2 linked regions of the Homo sapiens genome follow. The protein of the gene in region 2 purifies or fractionates together with the protein of the main gene of each other region. This does not show direct contact. Each region holds a gene or a part of one and is shown on either strand. Other genes may lie near its edges. The genes, in order: NLRP7 and TLE6.

What was found.
Region 1: the proteins of TLE6 (region 2) and NLRP7 purify together in Homo sapiens (co-immunoprecipitation; one study listed by IntAct). This does not show direct contact.

The regions. Positions count from the first base shown.
Region 1 is NC_000019.10:54,944,721-54,949,072, forward strand, and holds the start of NLRP7 (NACHT, LRR and PYD domains-containing protein 7), read right to left. Parts: upstream 2,811-4,352; 5' UTR 2,749-2,810; intron 1-2,748. UniProt on the Homo sapiens protein: Inhibits CASP1/caspase-1-dependent IL1B secretion.
Region 2 is NC_000019.10:2,990,756-2,994,564, forward strand, and holds part of TLE6 (transducin-like enhancer protein 6), read left to right. Parts: intron 1-1,087; coding exon 1,088-1,229; intron 1,230-2,676; coding exon 2,677-2,827; intron 2,828-3,263; coding exon 3,264-3,340; intron 3,341-3,809. UniProt on the Homo sapiens protein: Component of the subcortical maternal complex (SCMC), a multiprotein complex that plays a key role in early embryonic development.

The sequences.
Region 1 (4,352 bases), about 52 Mb from region 2:
CCAGGAGTTCCAGACCAGCCTGGGCGACACAAGGAGACCTTGTCTCTATTTTTTAAGTATTTTTAAAGTAATATATACAACGTTTACTTGTCAAAGTGTACAGCATGGAGCGATGTTATATATACAGTGAAATGATTACCACAATCCAGCTAATTAACATATCCACTGCTTCATATAGTTGCCTTTCGTTTTTGCAGTGACAACGCTTGATGTACTTAGAAAAATTCAGGGTTTTTTGGCCAGGCACGGTGGCTCACGCCTGTAATCCCAGCACTATGGGAGGCCGAGGCGGGCAGATCACAAGGTGAGGAGCTCAAGACCATCCTGGCTAACACGGTGAAACCCCGTCTCTACTAAAAATACAAAAAAAAAATTAGCCGGGCATGGTGGCGGGCGCCTGTAGTCCCAGCTACTTGGGAGGCTGAGGCAGGAGAATGGCTTGAACCTGGGAGGCGGAGCTTGCAGTGAGCCAAGATCGCGCCACTGCACTCCAGCCTGGGCGAGTGAGACTCCCTCTCAAAAAAAAAAAAAAAAAGAAAAGAAAAGAAAAATTCAGGGTTTTTTTTTTCTTTTTCAGAAAGTCTTGCTCTGTCGCCCAGGCTGGAGTGCAATGGTGCGAGGCTTACCACAACCTCCTCTTCCCGGGTTCAAGCGATTCTCCTGCCTCGGCCTCCCAAGTAGCTGGGATTACAGGTATGCCCCACCACACCTAATTTTTTTTGTATTTTTAGTACAAACGGGGTTTCACCATGTTGGCCAGGCTGGTCTTGAACTCCTGACCTCAGGTGATCTGCCCACCTCAGCCTCCCAAAGTGCTGGGATTACAGGTATGAGCCACCAGGCCTGGCCAAGTATTTTTTTTCCCAAGTACATTTTTTTCTTTTTTTCTTTTTTTTGAGATGGAGTCTCCCTCTGTTGCCCAGGCTGGAGTGCAGTGGCACAATCTCGACTCACTGCAACCTCCACCTCCCAGGTTCAAGTGATTCTAGTGCCTCAGCCTCTCAAGAAGCTGGGATTACAGGCGCACCGCATCACGCCGGGCTAGTTTTTGTATTTTTAGTAGAGACAGGGTTTCTTGTTTTTTTCTGAGATGGAGTCTTGCTCTGTCACCCAGGCTGGAGTGCAGTGGCGCGATCTGGGCTCACTGCAAGCTCCGCCTCCCAGGTTCACGCCATTCTCCTGCCTCAGCCTCCCAAGTAGCTGGGACTACAGGCGCCCGCCACTATGCCCAGCTAATTTTTTTTGTATTTTTAGTAGAGATGGGGTTTCACCGTGTTAGCCAGGATGGTCTCGATCTTCTGACCTCGTGATCCGCCCGCCTCGGCCTCCCATAGTGCTGGGATTACAGGCGTGAGCCACCGCGCCCGGCCGAGACAGGGTTTCTCTATGTTGGCCAGGCTGGCCTCGAACTCCTGACCTCAGCTGATCCACCCGCCTCGGCCTCCCAAAGTGCTGGGATCACAGGCGTGAGCCACCGCATCTGGCCATTTACATTTTTTTTTTTTTTTGATGCAGCATTTCACTCTGGTTGCCCAGGCTGGAGTGCAGTGGCGCAATCTCAGCTCACCGCAACCTCCGCCTCCCGGGTTCAAGTGATTCTCCTGCCTCAGCCTCCCGAGTAGCTGGGATTACAGGCATGTGCCACCACGCCCAGCTAATTTTGTATTTTTAGTAGAGATGGGGTTTCTCCATGTTGGTCAGGCTGGTCTCAAACTCCCGGCCTCAGGTGATCTGAAAGTGCTGGGATTACAGGCGTGAGCCACCGCGCCCAGCCTACTTTTTTTTTTTTTTAAACAGGGTCTTCATCTCATCCAGGCTGGAGTGCAGTGGCTCAATCACACCTCATTGCAGCCCCCACCTCCTGGCTCAGGTGATCCTCCCACCTCACCCCACAAGTAGCTTGGACACAGCACAAGGTCTGGCCTTCTTTGTTTTTTGAGACGGAGTCGCACTCTGTCTCCCAGGCTGGAGTGCAGTGGCGCGATCTCAGCTCATTGCAACCTCCCCCTCCTAGGTTTAAGCTATTCTCCTGCCTCAACCTTCCAAGTAACTGGGATTACAGGCATGCACCACCACACCTGGCTAATTTTTGTGTTTTTAGTAGAGACAGGGTTTCACCATTTTGGGCAGGCTGGTCTCAAACTTCTGGCCTCAAGTGATCCACCCGCCTCGGCCTCCCAAAGTGTTGGGATAACAGGCATGAACCACTGTGCCTGGCCTTATATTTTTTTGTAATGACAGAGTTTTACCATGTTGCCCAGGCTAGTCTCAATCTCCTGAACTCCTCTAAACTATATTTGAATAGAAGTCCTTAAGACATTAGGCCAGGCGTGGTGGCTCACACCTGGAATCCCAGCACTTTGGGAGGCCGAGGCAGACAGATTACCTAAAGTCAGGAGTTCAAGACCAGCCTGGCCAACATGGTGAGACCCCGTCTCTACTAAAAATACAAAAATTAGCTGGGCATGGTGGCACGTGCCTGTAGTCCCAGCTACTCAGGAGGCTGAGGCAGGAGAATGGCGGGTGAACCCAGGAGGCGGAGTTTGCAGCGAACCAAGATCACGCCACTGCACTCCAGCCTGGGCGACAGAGGGAGACTCCGTCTCAAAAAAAAAAAAATCAAAGATCCTTCCAGCATCCTCGCACCAACCATTAAGGCTTGGGAAGGGCTATGGTGGAAACTCAACCAATAGCTTCTTCTCCCTTAAACGAGAAGACAAAGAAATCGATGCAAGAACCAGCACTCACCTCCCTCAGGTCAGGTCTTGCTTCCAGCCTGTGTTTCCTGCAAAGGAAACGGATAAAAAGGGGAGGTCTCTGGCCCTTGGTACGCTAGGTGGAGAGACAGCTTTCCCGCCCAGGGTGGAACCGCCCCACTGAGATTAACATTGGGTGGCTCCCAACCACTGACCTCAGGCTCACCTTGACATCACCTGGGCCCCATCCTCAGGGATTTGGCTGTAATTGGGCTTCAGTGGGCTTTGGAGAATTACGGCTTGCTGAATCTCCCCAGGTGAGATTAATGTGCAATTCCCTTCCTAGACCACCCGGGCCAGGTGTGATAGGCGACAGAACAGGAAATACACATTTTGGGTTTTGCAGGGTACCTGGCTCCCAGCTTTAAAAACTCTTGTAGAGAAAAAAAATTAAACAAAAATAAATAAAAATTAAAAAAAAAGAGGACAAAAACTCCCGTGACTTCCTAAGTTACAAATACAATAAGTCTACTTTGTGGCCAACTGTGGTGCCTCCTGCCTATAAATCCCAGCAGGCTGAGAGGCCTAGGCCAGTGGATCCCTAGGGGCCAGGAGTTTGATACCAGCCTAGGCAACATAGCAAGATGCCATCTCTTCAAAAATATTTAATAATTAGCCATGCATAGGCTGGGCGTGGTAGCTCATGCCTGTAGTCCCAGCAATTTGGGAAGCCGAGGCGGGTGGATCACCTGAGGTCAGGAGTTGGAGACCAGACTGGCCAACGTGGTGAAACTCTGTCTCTACTAAACATACAAAAAATTAGCCAGGTGTGGTGGCAGGTGCCTGTAATCCCAGCTACTCGGGAGGCTGAGACAGGACAATCACTTGAACTAGGGAGGTGGAGGGTGAGTGAGGCACGATCACGCCATTGCACTCCAGCCTGGGTGACAAGAGCAAGACTGTCTCAAAAACAAAAACAAAAAAATTAGCCATACATGATGGGCTGCACCTGTAATCCCAGCTATTCAGGAGGCTGAGGTGGGAGGATCACCTGAGCTCAGGAGTTTGAGGCTGCAGTGAGCTGTGACTGGCCATCTCACTCCAGCCTAGGCCACAGAGTGAGACCCAGTCTCAAAAAAATAAATAGATAACTGATATTTAATTTTTTTTTTTGGATGGAGTCTTGCTCTGTGGCCCAGGCTGGAGTGCAGTGGTGCAATCTCCATTCTTGCAACCTCTGCCTTCCAGGTTCAAGCAATTCTGATGCCTCAGCTTCCCAAGTAGCTGGGACTGCAGGCACATGCCACCATGCCCAACTAATTTTTTGTATTTTTAGTAGAGACAGGGTTTCACCATATTGGTCAGGCTGGTCTCAAACTCCTGATGTCAGGTGATTACAGGCATGAGCCACCGCACCTGGCCTAAAATTGTTTTTAAATAAAACAGTGTATGTTGTGGAAAGCATTCAGCACAGAATTTTGGTAGTTTAAACTGTTAATTTAATGGAAGCAAATGGTCCCACAAATGAAGATGTATATATCAGTTGCAGCATGCCATCTATAGAAATAGGCACTATGGAGGCCTGGCATGGTGGCTCACACCTGTAATCCCTGCACTTTGGAAGGCTGAGGCAGGTGGATCATCTGAGGTCAGCAG
Region 2 (3,809 bases):
TTTGGGAGGCCGAGGTGGGTGGATCACTTGAGGCCAGGAGCTCAAGACCAGCCTGGCCAACATGGCGAAACCCCCTCTCTACTAAAAAATATGAAAATTAGCCGGCGTGGTGGCACATGCCTGTAATCCCAGCTACCCCGGAGGCTGAGGCAGGAGAATCGCTTGAGAAGCGGAGTTTGTGGTGAGCCAAGATGGTGCCACTGCACTCCAGCCTGGGTCACAGAGTGAGACTCTGACTCAAAAAAAAATTTTACATACATACATACATACATACATACATACATACATATATGTATACACACACACATATTAAATATATGTAAATAGGCTGGGCATGGTGGCTCATGCCTGTAATCCCAGCACTTTGGGAAGCCGAGGCGGGCAGATCACCTGAGGTCGGGAGTTTGAGACCAGGCTAACATGGAGATACCCCATCTCTACTAAAAATACAAAATTAGTCAGGCGTGGTGGCCCATGCCTGTAATGCCAGCTACTCGGGAGGCTGAGGCAGGAGAATCGCTTGAACCCAGGAGGCAGAGGTTGCAGTGAGCTGAGATCGTGCTGCTGCACTCCAGCCTGGGCAACAAAACGAGACTCCATTTCAAAAAAAAAAAAAATACGTATATATATATATATATATACACACACACACACACACACACACACACACATATATATAATATATGTATTTATAACATATAAGATATCTATCAGCATATGTTTGCAGGAAGCAATGGCTGACGTAAAATACAGCACACCACCCGCCCGGCACTATTCCCCTTCCCTGCTTGAAGGGATTCCTGTAGACCTGCCTCAGAGCTCGGGTGGACTCAGGGTGGAAGAGGCAAGGGGAGGCCTAGGTGAGGCCAAGGGGAGGCCCAGGCGGACGGAGAAGGGAGGCTGAGGGCTGGGAGGGGCCGGCACTAGATCCTGTGTCTGTTTTCTGCCAACTTTGACACTCTGTGCAGGCAGAGATTTTTGGGTGGTGGCACTGTCCCTTTCATGCCCAAATGTAGTGACTGGTGTTTCCGGGGGCCCAAACCTCAGAGTCTTGACCTGATTGCCTCCCGATGTCCCTTCTGGCCAGGGACCTCAAGGGTTATCCTGATGGAGTCAAGAGTATCGTGGTCAAGGGCTACAACATCTGGACTGGGGGTCCGGATGCCTGTCTGCGGTGCTGGGACCAGAGGACCATCATGAAACCTCTGGAGTACCAATTCAAGTCTCAGGTGCGGAGGCCGGGATGGGGTCTGCTTGGCCAGGCATCCTCTGGTCCTCAGATTAAAAAATGAGGTTGAGGCCGGGCTCCGTGGCTCACGCCTATAATCCTAGCACTTTGGGAGGCCAAGGTGGGTGGATCACCTGAGGTCAGGAGTTTGAGACCAGCGTGGCCAACATAGTGAAACCCCATCTCCACTAAAAATACAAAAATCAGAGCTGGGCGCAGAGGCTCACACCTGTAATCCCAGCACTTTTGGAGGCCGAGGAGGGCAAATCACCTGAGGTCGGGAGTTCAAGACGAGCCTGACCAACATGGTGAAACCCCGTCTCTACTAAAAATACAAAATTGGCCAGGCATGGTGGCACATGCCTATAATCCCAGCTAGTCGGGAGGCTGAGGCAGGAGAATCGCTTAAACCCGGGAGGTGGAGGTTGTGGTGAGCCGAGATCGTGCCATTGCACTCCAGGCTGCGCAATAAGAGCGAAACTCTGTCTCAAAAACAAATGAGGTTGGCCAGGCACAGTGGCGTATGCCTGCAATCCCACCACTTTGGGAGGCAGAAGTGGGAGGAAGACTTGAGCCCAGGAGTTTGAGACCAGCCTGGGCAACATAGTGAGACCCTGTTTCTACAAAAAATAAAAATAAAAATTAGCTGAGCATGGTGGCACGTACCTGGGGTCGCAGCTAGTTGGGAGGCTGAGGTGAGAGAATGGCTTGAGCCCGGGGAGGCTGAGGCCACAGTGAACTGTGATCATACCAGTGACTGTAGTCCAGCCTGGGTGACAGAGTGAGACCCTGTCTCAAAAAAAAAAAAAAGGGGGGGAGGCGGGTGGGGGGGGGGGAGGATGAACTCTGGGAAGGAAAAAAGGTAGTGGTTCTAAGTCTCACTGATGCTCCAAACACAGAGATCATTAGAAATATTCTTTGCAGGCCGGGCGCAGTGTCTCACGCCTGTAATCCCAGCCCTTTGGGAGGCCAAGGCGGGTGGATCATTTGAGGTCAGAAGTTCAAGAACAGCCTGACCAACATGGTGAAACCCCGTCTCTACTAAAAAAAAAAAAAAAAAAAAAAAAAAACAGAATAATTAGCCAGGCATGGTGGCGCATGCCTGTAGTCCCAGCTACTCAAGAGGCTGAGGCGGGAGAATCGCTTAAACCCCAGGAGGCAGACGTTGTCGTAAGCCGAGATCGTACCATTGTACTCCAGCCCGGCAACAGAGCGAGACTCCGTCTCAAAATAAACACTCATGCTGTATCAGGTGCAAAGTAGGGAAGACTCTCCATTTTACACACCAACAAACTGAGGCACAGATACGAAGTTGCTTGTCCCAGGGCTGCACAGCTAGGAAGGGGTCAGTCACCCGGCCTCCAGGATAGGTCCCCAGGCTCCTGCCTGCTTCCTGGGCCAGGCTGGGACCTAACCAGGTTCCTCCCTCCCCACTGCCCATTACCTAGATAATGAGCCTGTCCCACAGCCCCCAGGAGGACTGGGTGCTGCTGGGCATGGCCAATGGCCAGCAGTGGCTGCAAAGCACCAGCGGGAGCCAGCGGCACATGGTGGGGCAAAAAGACAGCGTCATCCTGAGCGTCAAGTTCTCCCCCTTTGGTAAGCGGCTGGCGGAAGATGAGGGGACTCCCCTGCAGCCCCCAGCCTCCCACAAGACCCCACCTAATGCCAGCTCCCCACCCAACCCTCTAGGACACCTCAGAACCCTTCTGTAGCAGAAACCAATTTTGGGGATGCTCTTATAGTGGAATGAGGGAGGGAAGGGGGTGGGTGCCTGGGCCCTTCCTCCCCACCCGCCCCACCGGCGCGGTCCGCCTCCGCCCTTCCCCCTTCAGCCACTGGTGTCCCCATGAGCCCGGGGAGGCTGAGGCCACAGTGAACTGTGATCATACCACTGACTGTAGTCCAGCCTGGGTGACAGAGTGAGACCCTGTCTCAAAAAAAAAAAAAAAAAAAAAAGGTGGGTGGGGAGGATGAACTCTGGGAAGGAAAAAGGTAGTGGTTCTAAGTCTCGCTGATGCTCCATTTCTCCCAGGCCAGTGGTGGGCAAGCGTTGGAATGGACGACTTCCTTGGCGTCTACAGCATGCCGGCGGGGACAAAAGTGTTCGAGGTACTGCGGTGGGCTGGGGGCAGGACCCGGGGGTGGCCCCAAAGGGACCAGCCTGGGCAACACAGCAAGACCCTGTCTCCACAAAAAACTTAAAAAGTAGCCAGGTGTGGTGGCTCACGGCTTTAATCCCAGCATTTTGGGAGGCTGAGGCAGGAAGATCTCTTAAGTGTAGGAGTTCGAGACCAGCCTGGCCAACATAGTGAGACCCCATCTCTACAAAAAATAATTAGCTGAGCCGGGTGCGGTGGCTCACGCCTGTAATCCCAGCACTTTGGGAGGCCGAGACGGGCAGATCATGAGGTCAGGAGATCAAGACCATCCTGGCTAACACGGTGAATCCCTGTCTCTACTAAAAATACAAAAAATTAGTTGGGCGTGGTGGTGGGCGCCTGTAGTCCCAGCTACTTGGGAGGCTGAGGCAGGAGAATGGCGTGAGCCAGGGAGGCGGAGCTTGCAGTGAGCCAAGATT